Linked DNA regions of Homo sapiens. The protein of the gene in region 4 purifies or fractionates together with the protein of the main gene of each other region. This does not show direct contact. Each region holds a gene or a part of one and is shown on either strand. Other genes may lie near its edges.

Region 1 (4,132 bases), about 34 Mb from region 4:
GAGATATTCCCACAGGCCTTCCTTCACACAGCACCATCCCTGCACACACCTCCTGCCCTTGCCTTTCTACCTGCCCGCCCATCTCTCCTCTCCTGCCTTGCTCCTGGCCCTCCCACCTGGCCAACACGTCTGTTCTCAGCACTGACCACCTCCATGAGTACCACGCAACTCACCCATCTGTTTAAGGTTGTTGTAGTCTTTTTCATTCCCATCTCCCTAAAATATCAGCTCCACGAGGGCAGGGGTTTTGTCTGTTTTGTGTTTTTGTTCATCTCAGTAACAGACTTACCTTCATAATTACATTTGACTCAGCTTAATATGGAGATAAATTTATGTCCCCTGGACATGCAATAACAGGTGGTGTCTCAGATGCTCTTGACGGTAGAATTTGGGTTTAAAATTCATGTCTAATCCACGATTATGATCAAGCTTTATCTTTTAAAACCCATGGGTGGCGCTGGTGATGAGACAGAGGTGTGGAAGAAAAAGACAATTGCAAGTAATTGCTATTCTTTATTTTGCCACTCAAAATAATTACCAAAAAAAAAAAATCTTAAATGATAACAACACAACATCAAGGCAAAGAGAACAGGAATGGCTGACTCTGCATAAATTGGCCGAAGATTATCCATTATCTTAAGGTTTGACTTCAGGTTACAGCACACAGACAAACATGCCCAGGAGGCTCTCAGGACCGCTCGATGTCTTCTGAGGAGGCTGCGGCGGGGAGATCCAGGAGGCGGTCGAGGGCACCGGCCTCTGCAAAGGGAAGAGCCACATCTGAGCAGCAACTTCTTAATATGCACATGAGAGAATTACAACCACGACACATGCTACAGGAAGCGGCGTGTGGTCGTCCTCTGTAAAGATTCTTACCAGATTAAACCCAGAATCAGGGACAACACTCTGTATTCCTCACTTCGTAATGATTTAACTCCCACAGTTAGTAAGCATTTAAAACTGTCAGACTTTTAAATTCAGGCTTTAAAGAGGTATAATTCCTAGCTGAGTAATGAGAGCTGGTATATCCTAAGGAAAGAGTTTCCATGTTACAAAATTAAAAACAAATGAAAAACAAAAATCTAGCAGAGTCCCTCTGCCCCTTGTAGGAAAAGTCACCCCAGCTTTTCTCCCAGAGGCTCCACTGGGCTCCAACAGAGGGAACTTGGTGACTCGGTTTTGAGATTTCTAATGAACACCGCCTTTTCCAAGACCTTCTCTGGCAGTCTCCTTCCCCCGCTCCCCTCCCCTCACTCCTCTTCCCTCTCCCCATCGCCACCTAAAGTGCAGCCCGATAACACTGCAAATGAAAAACATCCTGATCCAAAATGAACCCAAGGATTAGCCTTGATTTTTCAAAACTGGACAAAACTGTGATGTGCAACTGAAGGTCTCCACTGGAGAGGCTAACGGTCCATCCCTCCTCCCCACCACCAGCTCCCTGTTAACTCTCAGAGCAGCAGGTGAAGGTCTTCTCCACTGGAGAGGCTAAGTGGTCCATCCCTCCTCCCCTCCACCACCTCCCCCTTAACTCTCAGAGCACCAGGTGAAGGTCTTCTCTGCTGGAGAGGCAAAGCGGTCTATCCCTCCTCCCCACCACTGCCTCCCCCTTAACTCTCAGAGCACCAGGTGAAGGTCTTCTCTGCTGGAGAGGCAAAGCGGTCCATCCCTCCTCCCCACCACCACCTCCCTGTTAACCCTCAGAGCACCGGGGCCGCTTTCCGGCTCCCTCCACTGCTGCAGTAGGACCTGTGTGGTTATCTGATCAAGGCCAGATGCCCATCGTAGAATGAATGCCAAGCGTAGTGTGCGGAGGTCTCCTCATCCCCAGTGTTTGCAGAAGACACTGGAAGCCAGGATCAGAGCCTTTCCAGTTAGATTTCAAGGCAGCCTGCCTGGCAGGAAGGCTGCATAGAGAAACACTGCAGTCTAAGATATGGGCTTCTATTAATTTCCCATGCTTAGAAAATATGGTTTAGGGCCAGGCACAGTGGCTCACGCCTGTAATCCCAGCACTTTGGGAGACTGAGGCAGACAGGTCACTTGAGGCCAGGAGTTCAAGATGAGCCTGGCCAACATGATGAACCCCAGCCTCTACTAAAAATACAAAAATTAGCCAGGCATAATTGTGCGCACCTGTTTTCCCAGCTACCTGGGAAGAAGAGGCACGAGAATCACTTGAGCCCAGGAGGCAGAGGCTGCAGTGAGCTGAGATTGCACCACTACATTCGAGCCTGGGCGACAGAGTGAGATGAAGGAAGGAAGGAAGAAAGAGAGAGAGAAAGAGGGAGGAAGAAAAAGGAAGGAAGGAAGAGAAAGAAGAAAGAAAGAAAAGAGAGAAGAGAAAGAAAAGACAGAGAAAAAAGAAAAGAGAAAAGGTTTAGGACGGTTCACAAAGAACTTGGCCTGTAGTATACCTCTGCCCTAAAAGGTACAGCAGTTGTCACCGTGTGAATAGATATGGTTCCAGTAGAATGAGCTGCACCCTGAGGCCCACTCTCTTCCTGGGACCAGCGCTGGCCCGATGGCCCTCCACGACGGTAGAATGCCCCTGCCGCAATCCCAGCCCTCTGGAGCTAGCTCTAGTGTTACATTCTCTGTTATCCCGACACACAGCCAAACAGGACTTTGTACGTAGATAAGTAATCGGCTACTTCCCAGGGGGATTCTATGGGTTCTCTTCTCGATGGGCCTTTTACGTTTCCAGTGTACTAAGAGATGAATGTTAAGTTGATGATATTTCACATACCTTTGAGATGCAAGAAAGACAGAAACTCAATGATTGTGCGCATGATATTGTTTTCAGGTATGGACCTGTCAAAGCTTCCTAGAAGAGAAAAGATCAACATTCACGACTTGTGCAGAGGGTGCTTCAGTGTCTCAGGTCATCCCCCTCCCTACAGAGGAGCTGGGCGCTGCAAGGTCAATGATCTGATCCCAGCAGCCTGAGGCCCTGCTGTGCTTTCCAAGGCCCTTGTTCAATGTGAGGGAGTTGGGGAGATATCCAGTTCGAGGCCTCGCTTTTCTTCTTCTTCTTCTTTTTAATTGAGATGGAGTCTCACTCTGTTGCCTAGGCTGGAATGCAGTGTCATGATCTTGGCTCACTGCAACCTCCGCCTCCCAGGTTCAAGTGATTCTCGAGCCTCTGCCTCCCAAGTAGCTGGGATGACAGGCACCCACCACCACGCCTGGCTAATTTTTATATTTTTGGTAGAGACAGGGTTTTGCCATGTTGGCCAGGCTGGTCTTGAACTCCAGACCTCAGGTGATCCACCCGCATCAGCCTCCCAGAGTGCTGGGATTACAGGCAGGAGCCATCGTGCCCAGTCCCGCTCTTCTGGAGGCCCTGGTGCCTGGGCAGCCTCCCAGCCTAGAAGGACCCCTTGCTGTCTCGGGTTTGCACGTTCTGTTTGCAGCTGCTGACAGGTGTGGCGAGGCCACATCGTCTTAGTCAAGTCATGGCCAGGCTTGGGCTGCAGCTGTGGACAGCCCCGACACCCACAGCTGTCCCCTGCATGCACCTGGGAGCTGGTGGAAGTGAGGTGCCCCGGGGCCCGGGATAGGAGTCCTCTCACCTGGTTTCATGTCATCTTCGGGCCGCAGCTCCCGCTTGCTGGTGAGGCCATTCTTGTCGCTGAATGACCTGTGGTTGCCAACGGCATCTGTTTGCAGATCAGAGAGGAAAGCCTCTGGGTGTGACTGTCATGCACGCCCTCCCCACACCCAAAGAAGGACACAGGGCTGCCTGTAGCCAACACACACACGCAACTCGACTGTGAAATAGAGCCCAGGGACAGACACCAGAGCAGAGGGAGCGATTCTCCACCCAGCTGAGGTAAGAGCTTGGCCGCTCACACCAGGGTCAAAGGGAATGTGAGGGTTTGCACAGGGTGGGTGGGAGAAAGGGAGGTGTGGCTCCTGAAGTGGGGGAGAGGCCCAGAACCTGCCCTGTTGCAGGGGTTGCGCCTGGGTCCAGAGGAGCTGGCATCTGAGCTGGCACTGAGCTGGCATCAAACTGGGTGACTCCCTGGCAGACAACAGGAGCTGGGTCCTCATGTCCCTGAAAGCATGGGGGACGCTGAAGAGTTTAAGTTGTGACTGAATCTGATTTTTATTTTCACTCTGGCAGCTG
Region 2 (2,635 bases), on a different chromosome or scaffold from region 4:
AGGTCAGGAGTTCAAGACCAGCACGTCCAACATGGTGAAACCCTGTCTCTACAAAAATACAAAAATTAGCTGGGCATCATGGTGGGTGCCTGTAATCCCAGCTACTCAGGAGGCTGAGGCGGGAGAATCGCTTGAACCTGGGAAGTGGAGGTTGCAGTAACCCGAGATCGCGCCATTGCACTCCAGCCTGGACAACAAAGAGAGACTGCATCTCAAAAAAAAAAAAAAAAAAAAGCAAGAAGCAAGGTGGGGCTCAGGTGGAGGGGCCCCTCCTCCCGGGGCATGACCCAGAAGAAGGGGACCAGGGGTTCTTAATCAATCTGCGGAAGCCTTTGGCTAAGGGAGGGAGGGGGTGCCGGGAGATCCAGGTTTGAAATGAATGCTGAGTGCCCGGCGCTTCCCCTGGTCGGCGAGGGAGGGGCCCCTGACATTTGCCAGGGCGTGGGCGCGCCTGTCTGCGCCCTGAGCTAGACGGCAAAGTACACAAGCAGACGAAGGGGTCGCATGCGGGGGCGCAGGAGTCAGGCGGATTTTATTGACCGGACGGCAGGCGGGGTCTATGAGCGGCTCCTGGAAGCGCGCGGCCACTCCTCCTGGGTCAGGCGCGGAGGCGCCACGGGCGGGCGGGGGACGCTGTCAGAACGGTCCGGGGGCCAGGCAGGGCAGGCCAAGGCGGTTTGCTGCGGGGTCCACCGCTGGGCGGGAGACGTCTCTCCGAAGTCTCTAACGAGAACACAGCAAGGCCGTGGGGAGGAGGCTGTGGCCCTCCAACCACCGCCCCCGGGTGCCAGGGTCGAGCCTGCCCAGGGAAAGCTCTTCTGGGCGCGGAGCAGGGAATGGAAGGGCCCGAGGGTGCCCCCTGAACGCGCGGCTCCGTGCTCCGGCTCAGACCTCCCGAGACCCCCTTGCCCGCGGCGGTCCAGGCCTCTCCCCTCTCACGTACCTGGCCAGCTCCGCTGAAGTCCAGGGACTCCGGTTCCAGCGCAGGCTCTGGGGCGCGCGGGCTCCGGGGCGCACGGACGGGGATCCCTGCCTGGGAGCTCCTGCGTCGCGTCTCCCACAGCTCCTGAACCCACGAGGGCAGCAGGAGAGGAGCCTCGCGGGCTGCGGGTTCGGGGGAGAGGGTGTCCCTGGCCAGGGGCCCGGCGGCCGCGCGCAGCGCGCGGCGCCACAGATAGGGTGAGCGACGCAGCCCCATGAGCAGGCCAGCGGCGCGGCCCACCGTGTGGTAGCGGGGACTCGCCACGTGCTTGTACCACGCGCCGGAGGGCAGCGGCAGCAGGAGCAGAAGCAGCAGCAGTGCCAGCCGCGGCCGGCTCGCGGGAGCCCCCCGCTCCCCTGGGCGCCACGCCAGGGCGCTCGCGTCGACGGCCGCCCGGCGGGGCGGGCCACGAACCGGCTCGGCTGGGTTTGGGCGCGCAGTGGAGTTGGGACGCCCAGGTACCGGAGCGCAGGAGGCTGGAGGCGAGCCGTGGGTCCCCTGCAGGCCCAGCTATAACCGCTCGGTGGCCCCGCCTCGTTCCGCCCCCTCAGTACCGCTGGGCTCCCCAGATGGGGGGAGGGACGGAGGGAGGAGAGGGAACCCTGGCAGCTGGCGGGGGACGTGGGTACTTGAGCACCTCACTGAGTGGGCCGCTGGCTGGAACTGGGCTCGAGGCTCCTCTGAGGGGACACGTCCCATTCTCTGCCTGCTCAGCCTCCTCCCTCTAGGAGTGGAAGTGCCAGGGAGTGGGTACTGGGAACACTGATGAGGGAGTAGGGCTGAGGGATGCCCCTTTAGCCAGACTCCTGCCGGTGGGACGACAGCAGAGCGAAGGCCCAGGTGCAGGCAGAGCTACAGTGGCTATTGCAGGAGGGCTGTCGGGGGCCTTCAGCACCATTCAAGACCCCTCTGGGTGAGTCCCCCCAAGAGTTGTCCCTTGTCCTTGCCTAGCATAGCTCCCAAAGCTGTCCCCACACCCTGTCCTGTCCACTGCCACCCCCAGCTTCTCCCCACCAACCCATCTCCCCGCAGAAGCCTTAGAAGCCTCATGTTGGCAACACCAAGCCATCCGTGGGGTCTGCAGTTCTGTGAGGCTTCCAGGAGAAAAAGTCAGCCCCTCCTGGAACCTCTACCCCTGGAGGGGCAGGACAAGGCCTTGCAGACCTCCAGCGCCTCCTCTCTGGTGATGGTCCCCCAAGACCACTTTATCCAGCCAGTCTCAATTTTTGCCTAAACCAACAGCCTGTGGCTTTGCCTGCCTCTGTGCGTCTGTGCCTAACACCTACTCATCCTTCAAGACTCCACTTAAATGGCCCAGATCCTTGGCCGGGCGCGGTGGCTCACACCTGTAATCCCAGCACTTTGGGAGGCCGAGGCGGGCGGATCACCTAAGGTCATGAATTCAAGACCAGCCTGGCCAACGTGGTGAAACCCCATCTCTACGAAAAACACAAAAAATTAGCTGGGTATGGTGGCAGGCACCTGTAATCCCAGCTACTTGAGAAGCTAAGGCAGGAGAATCGCTTGAACCCGGGAGGCGGAGGTTGCAGCGAGCCAAGATTGCATCATTGCACTCCAGCCTGGGCAACAAGAGCGAAACTGCATCTTTTTTTTTTTTTTTGAGACGGATTCTGGCTCTGTTGCCCAGGCTGG
Region 3 (3,500 bases), on a different chromosome or scaffold from region 4:
TAGTTAACATTTGCTCCATTTGCTTTGTCACTCACGTTTGGGACTTCACCACAGTCACCATCTCATCACCCTTACACATTTCAGTGTGATACTCTTGCATAAGTACAGCGATAAAATCGGGAGATTTATCAGGTCACACTGTTTTTCCTTGCTCAGCTAATATCTTTCTTTTTTTTTTTTTGAGACAGAGTCTCGCTCTGTCACCCAGGCTGGAGTGCAGTGGTGCAATCTCGGCTCACTGCAAGCTCCGCCTCCTGGATTCACGCCATTCTTGTGCCTCAGCCTCCCAAGTAGCTGGGACTACAGGCGCCCGCCACCATGCCCAGCTAATTTTTTGTATTTTTAGTAGAGACGGAATTTCACTGTATTAGCCAGGATGGTCTTGATCTCTAACCTCGTGATCCGCCCACCTCGGCCTCCCAAAGTGCTGGGATTACAGGTGTGAGCCACCGCGCCTGGCCTTTTTTTTTTTTTTTTTTGGTGAGACAGAATCTTGCTCTGTCTCCCAGGCTGCACTACAGTGGCGCGATCTCGGCTCACTGCAACCTCCGCCTCCTGGGTTCAAGCAATTCTCCTGCCTCAGCCTCCCAAGTAGCTGGGATTACAGGTGTGTGCCACCACACCTGGCTAATTTTGTATTTTTAGTAGATACTTGATTTTGCCATGTTGGCCAGGCTGGTCTTGAACTCCTGACTTCAAGTGATCCTCCTGTCTCGGCCTTCCAAAGTGCTGGGATTACAGGCCTGAGCCACCAGCCTTGGCCCCCATCTTAAGGTCTTTAATGTAATCCCATCCGCCAGGACCCCTTAGCCCGGAAAGGTCACGCATTCACAGGTTCCGGGGATCAGGATGTGGATATCTTTTAGGGCACCAGTATCCAGCTGCCACAACACCCAGGCTCTTCCCGTCCCTCCTCTGCCCAGAGCCTGCCCCCGGCACCCCAGTGCCCTCAGGCCCGCATTCATGTTCCTCTTGTCTGCTCGGAGCCTGGGTGGACCTTGGCCACACCCGCCCAACCCTGCCCTTCCCGTATGCACCCTGACCTTCTTGCGTCAGCATTTTTAGAAATTGCTGGCGTGCAGCCTTGGGACCTTTGTCCGTTCGCCCCGCTCTCCCGTGACATTCTTTCTCAGGGCTCTTTGCCTGGTCCATGGACCTTCCATCTCCCCTGGAATGTCACCTCCTCAGGGTGTCACCGCCCCGGCTGTCCTGTGTGAAGGAGCCTCTGTGTTATTTGTGTCCTTGGTATTCCTTTGTTCATCCCTTGGTCGCCTGTTCTCTGTCTCTCTAGACTGGGTGCTCCAAGAGGCAGAACTCTTTTGGTTGTTGTTGTTTTTGAGACAGAGTCTCACTCTGTCGCCCAGGCTGGAGTGCAGTGGCGCGATCTCGGCTCACTGCAACCTCTGCCTCCCAGGTTCAAGCGATTCTCCTGCCTCAGCCTCCTGAGTATCTGGGATTACAGGTGCCCGCCACCATACCTGGCTAATTTTGTATCTTTAGTAGAGACAGGGTTTCACCATGTTGGCCAGGCTGGTCTCAAACTCCTGACCTCAGGTGATCCACCCGCCTCAGCCTCCCAAATTGCTGAGATTACAGGCATGAGCCACCCCGCCTGGCCTCCAAGAGTCAGAATTCTGTCATCATTTGATTCCTGCTGTGTCCATAGCGGCCGGCGCTGGGTCAGCCTGGAATAGCGGCTCAACACACGTCCCTGGCACAAATAATGAATTTGAGATTCAGTTTGTACCTGTGTCCTGCACACCTGTCACTCCTCTGGGCTCAGCCAGGGCCGGAGCTGCCTCCACTGCAGCCTAGGTCTCCCAAATTCTAGCTGCCCGTGTGTGTGTGTGTGTGTGTGTGTGTGTGTGTGTGTGTGTGTGTGTGTGTCTTTCTGCCCACTTGACCAAGGGGTGTGTGTGTGTGTGTGTGTGTGTGTGTGTGTGTGTGTGTGTCTTTCTCCCCACCTAACCAAGGGCCACTGGAGGCCAGGGCCAGGCTGATTCATTTTGGGTCCAGCATTGCACAGCGCAGGCCTGGGCCCCTAGAAGCCTCGGGAGACATGCGTGCGGTAAGTGTGTGTTGGCAGCGTGTGCGCTGTCCTTTCCTGCCTGGAAACCCTACCCCTTCCTGACTACTTGGAAACTCCCATATGAGGGAGGCTGCACTTGTTTGCTGAGGCCGCTGTAACCAAGTACCACTGACCAGGTGCTTCAGCAACAGAACTTGACTGTCTCATGGCCTGCAGTCAGAGTCCAAAGTGAAAGTATTGGCAGGGTTGGTTCCTTCTGGGGCTATGAGGGAGGATCTGTACCAGGCCCCTCTCCTTGGCTTGCAGATGGCCGTCTTCTCACTGCATTTTCACACCATCTTTCCTCTCTGTGTGCCTGGCCCAAATTTCTCCTTCCATTATTATTTTTTATTAATTATTATTATTATTATTTTTTTTTTTTTCCAAGACAGAGTTTTGCTCTCGTTGCCCAGGCTGGAGTGCGGTGGCGCGATCTCAGCTCACTGCAACCTCTGCCTCCCAGGTTCAAGCGATTCTCCTGCCTCAGACTCCTAAGTAGCTGGGATTACAAGCACGCGCCACCACGCCTGGATAATTTTGTATTTTTAGTACAGATGGAGTTTTGCCATGTTGGGCAGGCTGGTTTCGAATTCCTGACCTCAGGTGATCCACCCGCCTTGGCCTCCCAAAGTGCTAGGATTACAGGTGTGAGCCACCGCGCCCGGCCTATTATTATTTTGAGACAGGGTTTCACTTCTATCCTCCAGGCTAGAGTGCAGTGGTGCGATCTCGGCTCACTGCATCCTCCCCCTCCCACGCTCAAGTGATTCTCCTGCCTTAGCCTCCTGAGCAGCTGGGACTACAGGCACACACCACTGCACACAGCTAATTTTTATATTTTTTGTAGAGATGGGGTTTCACCATGTTGCCCACGCTGGTCTCGAATGCCTGAGCCCAAGTGATCCTCCCACCTCAGTCTCCCAAAGTGCTGGGATTACAGGCATGAGCCACTGTGCCCAGTCATAAATTTCTGCCTTTTATAAGGTCACCAATCATGTTGGATTAGGGCCCACAGTAATGACCTCATCTTAACCTGATTCCCTCTGTAAAGACCTAGTCTCCAAATCAGGTCACATTCTGAGGTACTGGGGCTTAGGACTTCAACATAGAAACTTAGGAGCGTGCAATTTAACCCCTAAGATTGGTTGATGCTTTATCAAAAATTTTGATGTTTTTCTTTTGTTTGTATGTATGTATTTATTTTATTTATTTATTTTTCAGACGGAGTCTCACTCTGTCACCAGGCTGGTGCAGTGGCGTGATCTCGGCTCACTGCAACCTCCGCCTCCCAGGTTCCAGTGATTCCCCTGCCTCAGCCTCCCAAGTAGCTGGGGCTACAGGTGCGCACCACCATGCCCAGCTAATTTTTTATGTTTTTATTAGAGATGGGGTTTCACCATGTTGGCCAGGATGGTCTCAATCTCTTGATCTT
Region 4 (3,500 bases):
GAAAAAATAAAAATGAGAAATTAAAGAATTAAAATTGAACAAAATGAAAATACTGCATATCGAAATTTGCTGGATGAAACAGAAGAAATGGTTATTTATAGGTATAAATGCTTGTATTAGAAAAGAAAAAAGTTACAAGTTAATAAGGTAAGTATCAAACTTAAGCTATAACAATAATAACAGGATCAATTCAAAGTAAACAAAAATTAAGGCAACAATAAAGATATGAACAGAAACTAATTAAACGGGAAATCAAAATATAATATAGAGAGTAAATAAAGCCAAAAGTCAGTCCTTTGAAAAGATCAGTAAAATTATTACATATATTATGAGATTGATGAAGAAAAAAGAGAAAGGCAAAAGGATTCAGTATTAAGAATGAAAAAGAAAACAAAACTTCAGCAATAATTCAAATTACAACAAAATAATTTTCCAAAAACTTTTTCTGATGGATTTGAAAACAGACAAAATTGGCAAATTTTTAGAAAAACATGTTAACAAAACTGACTCAAGAAGTAATAGAAACTCTAATAGCATATTACCAATAAAACAAATTGAAACAGTAGTTTAAAAGTCTGATAAAGAAGCCTCTATACCTGAATATCTCCATTAGTTAATTTATCTCTCCCTGCACTGATACTACATCTTACCGATTAAAGTTTTATAACACAGGGCTTTTCTCCTCATCTAATAAGATGGGTTCACCAGGAGCATCCTGGCTATTCTTGGCCTTTCCTCTGCCATATAAATTGTAAAACTAATTTGTCAAGTTCCATGAAAAATCTTTTGGCATTTGGTATTTGAAATGAAAATGTCTTGTATCTATAGATAAATTGACATTTTTACTATCTTGCATTTTTTATGAATATGGAATGCCACCTATTTTCTTAAGAGGTCTCTAAAATAAAGTTTATAATGTTCTTTGTACAAATTTTATTTAAGTGTTAGCACAAGGTCTTTCAGTAATCTAAACTTTAATATAATGGATAAAACTCATGTCAATAAAATTTTTGCAATAGGATTTATTCCAGCAAGTTGAAATTCTTATATAGTACTCACCTTTAAAAATAAAAACGGTGTCCCTGCTGTTAACTTCATATGCAGCATCCAAATATGATGGAAGAGAGGGCCAAAATGCAGAAATCAAATGAAATTCAGGTTCAGGGTTCCAGTGGGATCTTCGCCAAAAATATCTGTAATACATAAAATTACTTGCAATTGTCTTTCTCTTTTAGATATGTGAAAAAAAAATTCTTTTTTTTTAAATCCATGCTAATTCACCCATTCATAGAAGTCTGTATTAAACCATCCTCCTGCATGTGATTCCAGGGTAATGAAATCGATGGCAGGACTTGTGACTGGTTCCAGTAAAATTATTTAGCTTGGTTCCATTCTAAAAGTCCATAAACAGTGTGCATATTATGTCCTAATATTTTAAAAAATATTATGTGTATATTGATGCTTGTATATGAGTAGAACATTTTTGTAAAGAGTCAAAGGAAATTGGTAGCAGTGGTTGCACATATGAAGGGAGCTGGAGGACGGTAGGCCAAAGACTGGAGAGAGATTTTTTAACTCCGTATCTTTTGGTAGTGTTTAAATATTGTGCCACAAGCACATATCACTTTTTTCCAAAAGTAATTAATTTAAATAGTAGCATATATTAGTAAATGGAAAGATACCACCCTGCTTCTAAGGATCCACCAGTGCTTTCTGAAGAAGTTCCATGATATATGATATTTTAAAAAAATGAACGAAACAGATATAACTCCCTGCCTTAATCAAACTTACAGTCTAGGGACCAAGAATCATCCCTTATAAGTCTGTAAAAAATGATCTGGACAATTCTAAGAAGATGTTAAAAATTCAGCAAGAACTAGATCTGAATGATTTTAAAATGTAGAGGAAATTTTATATTTTAAAAAATCTCTGTCAAGCAGAAAAAGTAACTACTGGGTACTAGGATTAGTACTGGGGTGACAAAATTATCTGTACAACAAACCCCTGTGACACGAGTTTATCTATATAACAAACCTGCACATGTACCCCTGAACCTAAAATTAAAAAAAAAGCTCTGTCAAGTTTCTGTTTTTCTTTCTAAGCACTGTACATCAAAAGAATAGATAGGAAAATATAATTTTCTGGTCTGACCTGTCTTTAAAGAACAGATATTCTCCCCTCAGAGTGCTGATGGCATCGAAGGACAAAGCAGGATCACACTTGGCTGGCATCTCAGATCCCGAAGGAACAGATTTTGTGGGCACCAGGGGTTCCTCAGTAGAGGCAGGGGGAGGTCCTAAAGGAAACAGATTTGGGGATGCAAACATTAAAAAAAAATGTGATGCATCTGTCAATTTGTGTGCCTTTCAAACATTCTCAAAGTGCTTCAGGCCAAATCAGAAATACTTTAGGTAGCACTGGAAAGCTTTCTGGAGGACTGTCATTGTAGATCTGCAATGCCTAATTTTTCCAGCATCACTCACCGTAGAGAGACTGAATGCCATTCACATCATCTTGCGAAAGGCGGAACTGGGCGAGCTCTGTGAATGAGTTGTAGAGTGGGTACATCAAAGCTTCAGTGTTGGCTGAGTGAAAGAGCCCCAGGGAGTGGCCAAGTTCATGAGCAGCAACGAGGAATAAATTGGTGCCTGTATGAAAATCATAAATGTTCAGAATTCACCAGCTCTTTCTTCCATAAATACACATACAGAACATATGCCAGCTGTACAGGCCATCCTTGAAACCACAATGTCTTTTCAGTATTTGTGGATTGGTTCATTGATTGGCACATTCCATACTTTATAGAAATTAATGTGTTTTTCAAGGTTGACTTTAAGTCAATATATAAGACAGTTTTTCACCGTATCCCTCCCTAGATCCCTCCTTGGTCAGGAAAACTAAGACACTTTTCCTATATTGACAAATGAGAAGCATTATTTTCAAAAGATTTTTTTTTGAAAGGACAAGACTAATAGCATGTCAGTAAATATAACTCTTCGTTGTCTAAAAATAAAAAGTCATTGTTCAAATTTAGGAACACTTGCCAGTTGCAACCTTGGTTAAAATTAATCATATAACATTTACGTTCAAACTTTTAAGCCAGAAGACTGTGGTTATTTCTTGTGGGGTTTAGTCTGATTTTCTCTTCCTCCTCTTCATCATACTCAAGTAATTTTTTTTTTTGAGACAGAGTCTCATTCTGTCGCCCAGGCTGGAGTATGTGTCCAAGCGATTCTCGTGCCTCAGCCTCCTGAGTAGCTGTGATTACAGGCACGTGCTACCATGCCCGGCTAATTTTTGTATTTTTGTTGAGATAAGGTTTCACCATGTTGGCTAGGCTGGTCTCAAACTCCTGGTCTCAAGTGATTCACCCAACTTGGCCTCCCAAAATGCTGGGATTACAGGCATTAGCCACTGGTGCCTGGCCATAATCAAATAATTTTTGATTGTCAAAAATCTTCCCAGTAATAGGTGCCATTGGATGTGTACAATCTTTAGTT
Region 5 (3,500 bases), on a different chromosome or scaffold from region 4:
CTCTTACTTGTTCCCAAATTTAAATACGATGCCTGGTACTGACAAAGAGCAGGGAAAAACATGTTCTTTCCCTACATCATTTTCTCATCTATTTAATCAAAACAAACAAGTAGTTTGTGTCTTTTCAATATATGTATTTTAATTAAAAAAATTATCTGTTGAACAGATGGATCTCACTATGTTGCCCAAGCTGGCCTTAAACCTCTGGGCTCGAGTGATCCTCCCACCTTGGCCTCCAAAGAGCTGGGATTACAGGCATGAGCCACCACACTCAGCCTGTATCTTAATACTTAAGAAAATTTACACTGTGAAAAATTGATACCAAGATGCCAATGCACGTTAAAGAGAAAACGGTTGGCCATGATGATAAGAAGACCAATTGCTGGTGGGGCAGGAGAGCTACAAGGAGCTTTGATGACGCTCAGAAGGCCTTTTTGTTCAGGGGGTAGGACAGCTGTTCCCAACACCCATCTGCCTCATACCTCACTGTTACTGCAGAAATATGAGGGTGGGGGGAAACATGTGAGAAAGGAACTGGGCACTTCCCTGATCCTTGCAACCAAATATGGCTGAGATCATGACCATTTTGAGTTAAGTTCAGTTATGCATCATACCTGCATCAGATATGGGTAGTTAAATGATTTCCAGTGAAGAATAAAAAAAGAACAGAAGAAAATGTTACCTTAAGCTGGGAAGACGTGTCCTGGTTTCCATAAATCCTTTGTGCAATTCCATGGTTTTCATTGGACAGTCTCTTCAAAAAATCATAGTCCACATCAAATCCCATGCCCAAACTGAACAAGGAGATATTGTCTTGGATGTTCTCCTTAACGTTTTTCTGAATTTTTGACAGTTTTAGTTCGCCTAAAGTTGGTGATGTCCGAAAGGAAAGGAATGAAGAAGCAATATCATAAATTTTCTGGAAAATCCAGGGAGGGCAGTTTAGTAAAGTGTGTCCAGATTAAAACTGCATTTCCCTTTTGACCCAGTAACTCAATTTCTAGTTTTTCTTAGAGATGCACTCGTACATGTTGAAATGAAGTGTGGGTTGTGTTGCATAGCAACATTATTTGGGAATTAGCAACATATTGGAAACAACATAAATATGCACCAATGAGGGCGCTTGGTTAGATGATGATACATTTAAACCGTGAGATACTATGCAGCTATTAAAAAGGACATGGAAACTCCTTATGTATGTATACCAGACAATCTCAAGGGCATGTTTAGAGGAGAAAAAAAAAACAAGGTAAATATCAGGGTACCTAGGATGCATTTGCATGCATGCATGTATAAATGTATGTATGTGTATGTATGCATATACACATACATGTGTGCAAACATGTATATATAGTATACAGGCATGCATAAACTATTTGTGGAAAGATACACAAGAAACTGGTAACCAGTGACTGATTCCAGGGACAGGAACTGAATGGTTGAGAAACAGGAGTGAGAAACCATGATTAAACCAAATTATGGTTTAATTTTGTTTTTTTTTTTGAGACAGAGTCTCACTTTGTTGCCCAGGCTGGAGTGCAGTGGCACGATCTCAGCTCACTGCAACCTCCGCCTCCTGGGTTCAAGGGATTCTCCTGTCTCAGCCTCCCGAATAGCTGGGATTACAGGCACACGCCGCCCTGTCAGGCTAATTTTGTATTTTTAGTAGAGATGGGGTTTCACCATGTTGGCCAGGCTGGTCTTGAATTCCTGACCTCAGGTGATCCACCCACCTCAGCCTCCCAAAGTGCTGGGATTACAGGTGTGAGCCACCATGCCTGGCAAGTTTAATATTTTAAACTATATTTCCTTTTCCACCTTATGATTTCATTCAAAACTTGAATTTTGAAAATAATCTGATCTGAGGGAGAAAACATTGGCTCTACAACAAATACATAACACTGGCTCATTCTAGTCTCGTTATTAATAAGATGGTTGCTCTCTGGCTTTCTAAAGCTCTGACTGCCATTGTTTTTGCCTCGTGCATTTTCATTCTGCTTGGCTGTGTCAGGACGTGTTAGACTCGGTCCTAGTCTGTACGACAGCACACTCAGGCAACACAATCTGGCATTCGCTATTACTTACAGTGGCCAGAATAAAGACACAAGTAAAACAAAGATAGCTTGGCACAGTGGCTCACACCTGTAATCTCAACATTTTGGGAGTCCGAGGTGGGAGGACTGCTTGAGCCCAGGATTTTGAGATCAGCCTGAGCAACATAGTGAGACTTCGTCTCTCCAAAAAAAAAAAGAAAGAAAAAAAAGAAATTAGCTGAGTGTGGTGGTGCACACCTGTAGTCCCAGCTACTCAGGAGGCTGAGGTAGGAGGATCACTTGAGCATGGGAGGTTGAGGCTGCAGTGAGCTGTGTGTGCTCCACTGCACTCCCTCCTGGGTGACAGAGCAAGACCCTGTCTTCAAAAATAAATAAAATAAACTAATGTAACAAAAATAAAAATAAATAATAGAAGTAGGGAGATGTTGCTGCCCATTTTGTAGAAAGAAAAATGTTTAACTTCAAGGTTGTGTCAGAGAGCAGTCATTTCTCCAGGTGCAACCGGGAGAAGTGTGGAGAATAATAGGGAATATGCTACTGTGGCCTCCAAAGGTACTGCTGGGAGATCTGGGATCAATACTCATCATTCACCACCCCCATACACCATCTTCACATACCTCAAGTTGAGGAAATAGATGCATTTCCCTAGAATGCATCAGCAATCCTCACAACATACTATTAAAATTCAGACTCAGATTTCTGCATATTGTGGAGGTGGAACTGAGGCATTCAAGAGCGCCCTTGCTGAAAGTGTCTGAGCAGTAGCTTAAGGGGTGAGGGCTGCAGGATCAGAAGACCTCCTTTAGGAAGCATGGGTTTAAAATGTTCTAGAAACTCAGGCAAATGCCATTAGAGTTCCCCTTTTAGGCAAACCACCATTCCAAGAAACAACAGTGAAAGTGTTTGTCGTGAGAAGGTTGAAGTGACACTTGCCCACTGTTGGATCTCCATCAGAAACCAAAATGATCAGCGAGACGGAGTTGGGGTCTAACAGTCCCAAGTTATTGGCTTCATTCAAAATGAAGATTGCCCGTAGGAGTGCTTCGTTGATGTTTGTGCCTGTTGAAGTAGCATAATGAAACGTTGGGTATGCGTTCTCGCCACACGCAGAAAATCCCATTCTGGATTCAGACTCATATGTCGGCTGATCACTTATCCATCACTTATTCCATGCCAAAATCATTTCATTGCTTTCTGAGTGACACAAACTGTGCTCAAGCTGGTGGTCCCCCAGTGCAGTGAAATATTCACTTTGAAATAAACTATCCCCTTAGAGATGAACTAGCCCTTTCAAAGCACAGACTGTTAGCTTGTTAAACACCAGATTAAAGTATCCAAATCAGCCTTGCCAAGATACTCTGAAGATAGTAACATTTTATGCTTTATGCAGGCAATAAAGAAGGCCAGTGTCACTGAACCTTTTTCTGAGAGACATTAAAACGGTTC
Region 6 (3,500 bases), on a different chromosome or scaffold from region 4:
AGTGCAATGGTGTGATCTCAGCTCACCGCAACCTCCGCCTCCCCGGTTCAAGTGATTTTCCTGCCTCAGTCTCCCGAGTAGCTGAGATTACAGGCATGTGCCACCACGCCCAGCTAATTTTGTATTTTTAATAGAGATGGGCTTTCTCTATGTTGGTCAGGCTGGTCTCGAAATCCCACCCTCAGGTGATCTGCCTGCCTCGGCCTCCCAAAGTGCTGGGATTACAGGCATGAGCCACTGCGCCTGGCCTGTCACCACCATTTTATAGAGGGTAGTCTTGTCTAAGGACACAATTCTATTAGTCTATTTCAAAATTTAGAGCCCAAATTGAAAACTCTAAACTCAGTGTTCTTTATCCACAAACCACATCTTTTCCACAAAACTTCTCCTCTTTACCTATTTAAGATTTATAACATTTAGGCAGTAAAGGACACAGGAACTGCTGGCCTAGATGCTGTGGGGTTCCACAAGACAGACCAGTCAAGGGTTTATGTTTTCAAGGAGCTGATACTCATCAGTCTGTGTTTCACGCTATCCCCTAAAGAGGAGATTAGTTGCTTTCACTTGAGTCATCTCTGTTAAAACACATTAAGGGAAGCGTAAGAGACAGGCCTGGCTTGGGGACTGAGGGATTTACAAAGCTAGTAAAAATATTCTCCATCAAGAGGACTCATCATCTTTTGTACGGTAGTTTCAAAATTTACTTCATTAGTTTAAAACTTGTCCAGAATGAATAAAGGAAGAACAAATTCCAGGACATCCATTTTTATGATCAACCAGCTAATCTACCTTTCTCAGATATTGTTATCTTCTTTGAAAAACATATTAAAGAGCAAGTAATCAAATAGATGGAAGGTTTTAGAGAACCACAGTGCACTGGAGAAGGGACCTGAGAGATCAGTGATGTAACTCTTTAAGAAAAAATCAAGAATGCTTTAGAAAGGATAGCCAAGAACGATGAGGTTTCAGGTTGGTTCTACCGATTGGTGAACTAAATTTAACAGGCCAATTTTTTTAGTCAAGTGATGGTTTCAGGGTGTTTCAGCTGAATTTCATTTCCTTCTCAAGTCACCTATGTGGTTCGACCAAATGTACCAATTGTGCTTGGCTCTTACATGTTTGAGATGTGAGAATGTATGCAATTGTATGTGCATGCTTGAGTGTGTCTGTATGTGTATGCATGCATGTGTGTGTGTGTGTGCAGGTATAACAGGTAGGTCAAGTGAGAGAGGGACTAACTACTACCCTTTAGAGAGCTATACTGTGTGTTGGTCACTGCTATCACCATCTTATAGTTCCATGTTCAGACTCAGGGAACAACACATTCATATTATTTGATACCTAAGTGTAGAGGCAGAGGCCAGATCTGAAATTCATATTATCTGACTGTTTATGCTCCTTCAACTCTAACCTGAGGCATCCTGGTTAGTGTAGTGTACATCTGAGGTTTCTTTCCTGAAGGAGAATTACCAGCAGACAGTAGAGAAGAAACTAAATATAGTTTGTCCTTTATGAAAGAAAATAACAACAACGTATTGGGAAGTTAAGTAGCTTATAAGCTCCTTGTTTGTATTTTAATCCTTTCTAAAAATGTATTTACTTATGTCTAGACCTTTTTCATTCAAAAATATTTGAGGCTAATAGAGAAAGAAATTAGCTAATGTCTTATATACACATATGCAAGTATATACGCACACATATACATACACACATACTATATATAGCATATATATCATGTGTATACCCCATGTGTATCTTTTATGTGTATATGTAAAAATGTGTATAAGTACATATGTGTTTGTGTGTGTAAATGTATGCACACATATATTCATAGCTAAATATAGTATAACCTGTTTTATATTACATACACACTGTGGGCATTGGGAGCCAACTTCCTCTTGTGGTTTTGTAATTTGGACTTCCCAGTGGCACAGAAAGGATTTCTGGTCCTTTTTGTAACACTCTCAGAAACAAAAAGATTCCCAAGCTCAGGTGAACCTGTAAGCCATTCCTGTGTGCCACCTTGATCTTGACAATGAAGTTATAAACATCAGGGAAGAAGGGAGTCACTTAGTCCCTGCCTTTCACACCCCAAGATGACTTGCCCAGTGTCACATAGTAAATCTGTTCCTAGGACTTTTGGCTCCAGAAGTCCAGTTCTGTAGTCTAGTTGCTGTTACTACTGTCTTCCGAGTAAGTGGTTGTAATGTAAAATAATGACAATATTTTTGGGATTCCATAGAAGAAAAACCCAACAAAATCTACCCAGCAATGACAACTCCCTGGCCACCAACTTCCAGTGTCAGCTGACACACAGGGTATGTGTAGTACAGGGTCAAACTTGCTCATTTGTTCTGTTCAGTAGAAGGGTCCAAATGAATTGCACAGGCCCTGGAGTCAGGATTCCTGTCTCTAGTTTGGACCTTGGTCAAAGTGACTTAACCTCTCTTAGCTTCAGTTTCCTCATCTGTAAAATGGTAATAATTCCACCTGCTTCAAATGATTACTTTGAGACTGAAATGAAACAATGTGTGTCAGGACTGTCCAATATAAATATATTGTGTATAACATATGCATTCAGACATTTTAAAACATATATTCTACATAGCTTAATAGATCTAAAGTGTTATCACTCTAACCTATAATCACTATATAATTTTTCTTTTTTGAGACAGAGTCTTCCTCTGTCGCCCAGGCTGGAGTGCAGTGACATGATCTCAGCTCACTGTGACCTCTGCATTCTGGGTTCAAGTAGTTCTTGTGCCTCAGCTTCCCAAGTAGCTGGGACCACAGGTGTGTGCCACCACAGCTGGCTAATTTTTGTATTATAATTTTAGTAGAGATGGGGTTTCGCCATGTTGGTCAGACTGGTCTCGAACTCCTGACCTCAAGTGATCCACCTGTTTCGGTCTCCCAAAGTGCTTGGATTCCAGGTGTGAGCCACCATACCTGGCCTAATCACTATATAAAATTAATGAAATATTTTGCATTTTTTTCTACCCAGTCTTCAAAATCCAAGTGCATATATATTTCCTGTGTAGCACATCTCAAGGACACATATGGCTGGTGGCAATTGAGTTAGAGAGCACAGAGATAGATAGCACTGGGCATGTTTGCAATTCTTAATCTGAGAGGTCTTTAAGTGTGGAACACACTCTCCTGAAAGCAAGATTCTCTACGCACTCACAGATTAGGAGCTTCCTGAACAGGAGAAGAACCAGGAAGGCAGGTTTGAACCTGCAGGCAGCACAAAGGCAAATTCGATCTTCTCCCTCAAGAAACAAACCAGGTAAAAGTAAACAAATGGGACCTTTTGACAGTTGAAGCACTTGGCTGATGTGGGCATGGATACAGAATTCTCTATAGCACCTGGAGCTGAGGCCACATCCTTGGCAAAAGCAATGATTGCAGCTCCCATCTGCAGCAATTGCTACTGAGCAGGCACTAGACTGGCAACTTTCCACACAGGGCTTGCTGTAATCCTCACTGCAAGTCCTCAA

The links.
Region 1: the proteins of MMP10 (region 4) and GAL purify together in Homo sapiens (affinity purification with mass spectrometry; 2 studies listed by BioGRID and IntAct, with this or other methods). This does not show direct contact.
Region 2: the proteins of MMP10 (region 4) and NPW purify together in Homo sapiens (affinity purification with mass spectrometry; one large-scale study listed by BioGRID and IntAct). This does not show direct contact.
Region 3: the proteins of MMP10 (region 4) and NUCB1 purify together in Homo sapiens (affinity purification with mass spectrometry; one large-scale study listed by BioGRID and IntAct). This does not show direct contact.
Region 5: the proteins of MMP10 (region 4) and ITIH2 purify together in Homo sapiens (affinity purification with mass spectrometry; one large-scale study listed by BioGRID and IntAct). This does not show direct contact.
Region 6: the proteins of MMP10 (region 4) and HS3ST1 purify together in Homo sapiens (affinity purification with mass spectrometry; one large-scale study listed by BioGRID and IntAct). This does not show direct contact.

The regions. Positions count from the first base shown.
Region 1 is NC_000011.10:68,687,544-68,691,675, reverse strand, and holds the end of GAL (galanin peptides preproprotein), read right to left. Parts: intron 3,836-4,132; exon of another isoform or gene 3,673-3,835; intron 3,663-3,672; coding exon 3,576-3,662; intron 2,885-3,575; exon of another isoform or gene 2,828-2,884; coding exon 2,750-2,827; intron 760-2,749; coding exon 689-759; 3' UTR 501-688; downstream 1-500. UniProt on the Homo sapiens protein: Endocrine hormone of the central and peripheral nervous systems that binds and activates the G protein-coupled receptors GALR1, GALR2, and GALR3.
Region 2 is NC_000016.10:2,018,621-2,021,255, reverse strand, and holds NPW (neuropeptide W preproprotein), read right to left. Parts: upstream 1,472-2,635; 5' UTR 1,355-1,471; coding exon 944-1,354; intron 724-943; coding exon 637-723; 3' UTR 501-636; downstream 1-500. UniProt on the Homo sapiens protein: Plays a regulatory role in the organization of neuroendocrine signals accessing the anterior pituitary gland. Stimulates water drinking and food intake. May play a role in the hypothalamic response to stress.
Region 3 is NC_000019.10:48,906,812-48,910,311, forward strand, and holds part of NUCB1 (nucleobindin-1 precursor), read left to right. Parts: intron 1-3,500. UniProt on the Homo sapiens protein: Major calcium-binding protein of the Golgi which may have a role in calcium homeostasis. Acts as a non-receptor guanine nucleotide exchange factor which binds to and activates alpha subunits of guanine nucleotide-binding proteins (G proteins).
Region 4 is NC_000011.10:102,774,129-102,777,628, forward strand, and holds part of MMP10 (stromelysin-2 preproprotein), read right to left. Parts: intron 2,649-3,500; coding exon 2,484-2,648; intron 2,297-2,483; coding exon 2,152-2,296; intron 1,194-2,151; coding exon 1,060-1,193; intron 1-1,059. UniProt on the Homo sapiens protein: Can degrade fibronectin, gelatins of type I, III, IV, and V; weakly collagens III, IV, and V. Activates procollagenase.
Region 5 is NC_000010.11:7,727,316-7,730,815, reverse strand, and holds part of ITIH2 (inter-alpha-trypsin inhibitor heavy chain H2 precursor), read right to left. Parts: intron 3,114-3,500; coding exon 2,988-3,113; intron 865-2,987; coding exon 683-864; intron 1-682. UniProt on the Homo sapiens protein: May act as a carrier of hyaluronan in serum or as a binding protein between hyaluronan and other matrix protein, including those on cell surfaces in tissues to regulate the localization, synthesis and degradation of hyaluronan which are essential to cells undergoing biological processes.
Region 6 is NC_000004.12:11,401,395-11,404,894, forward strand, and holds part of HS3ST1 (heparan sulfate glucosamine 3-O-sulfotransferase 1 precursor), read right to left. Parts: intron 1-3,500. UniProt on the Homo sapiens protein: Sulfotransferase that utilizes 3'-phospho-5'-adenylyl sulfate (PAPS) to catalyze the transfer of a sulfo group to position 3 of glucosamine residues in heparan. Catalyzes the rate limiting step in the biosynthesis of heparan sulfate (HSact).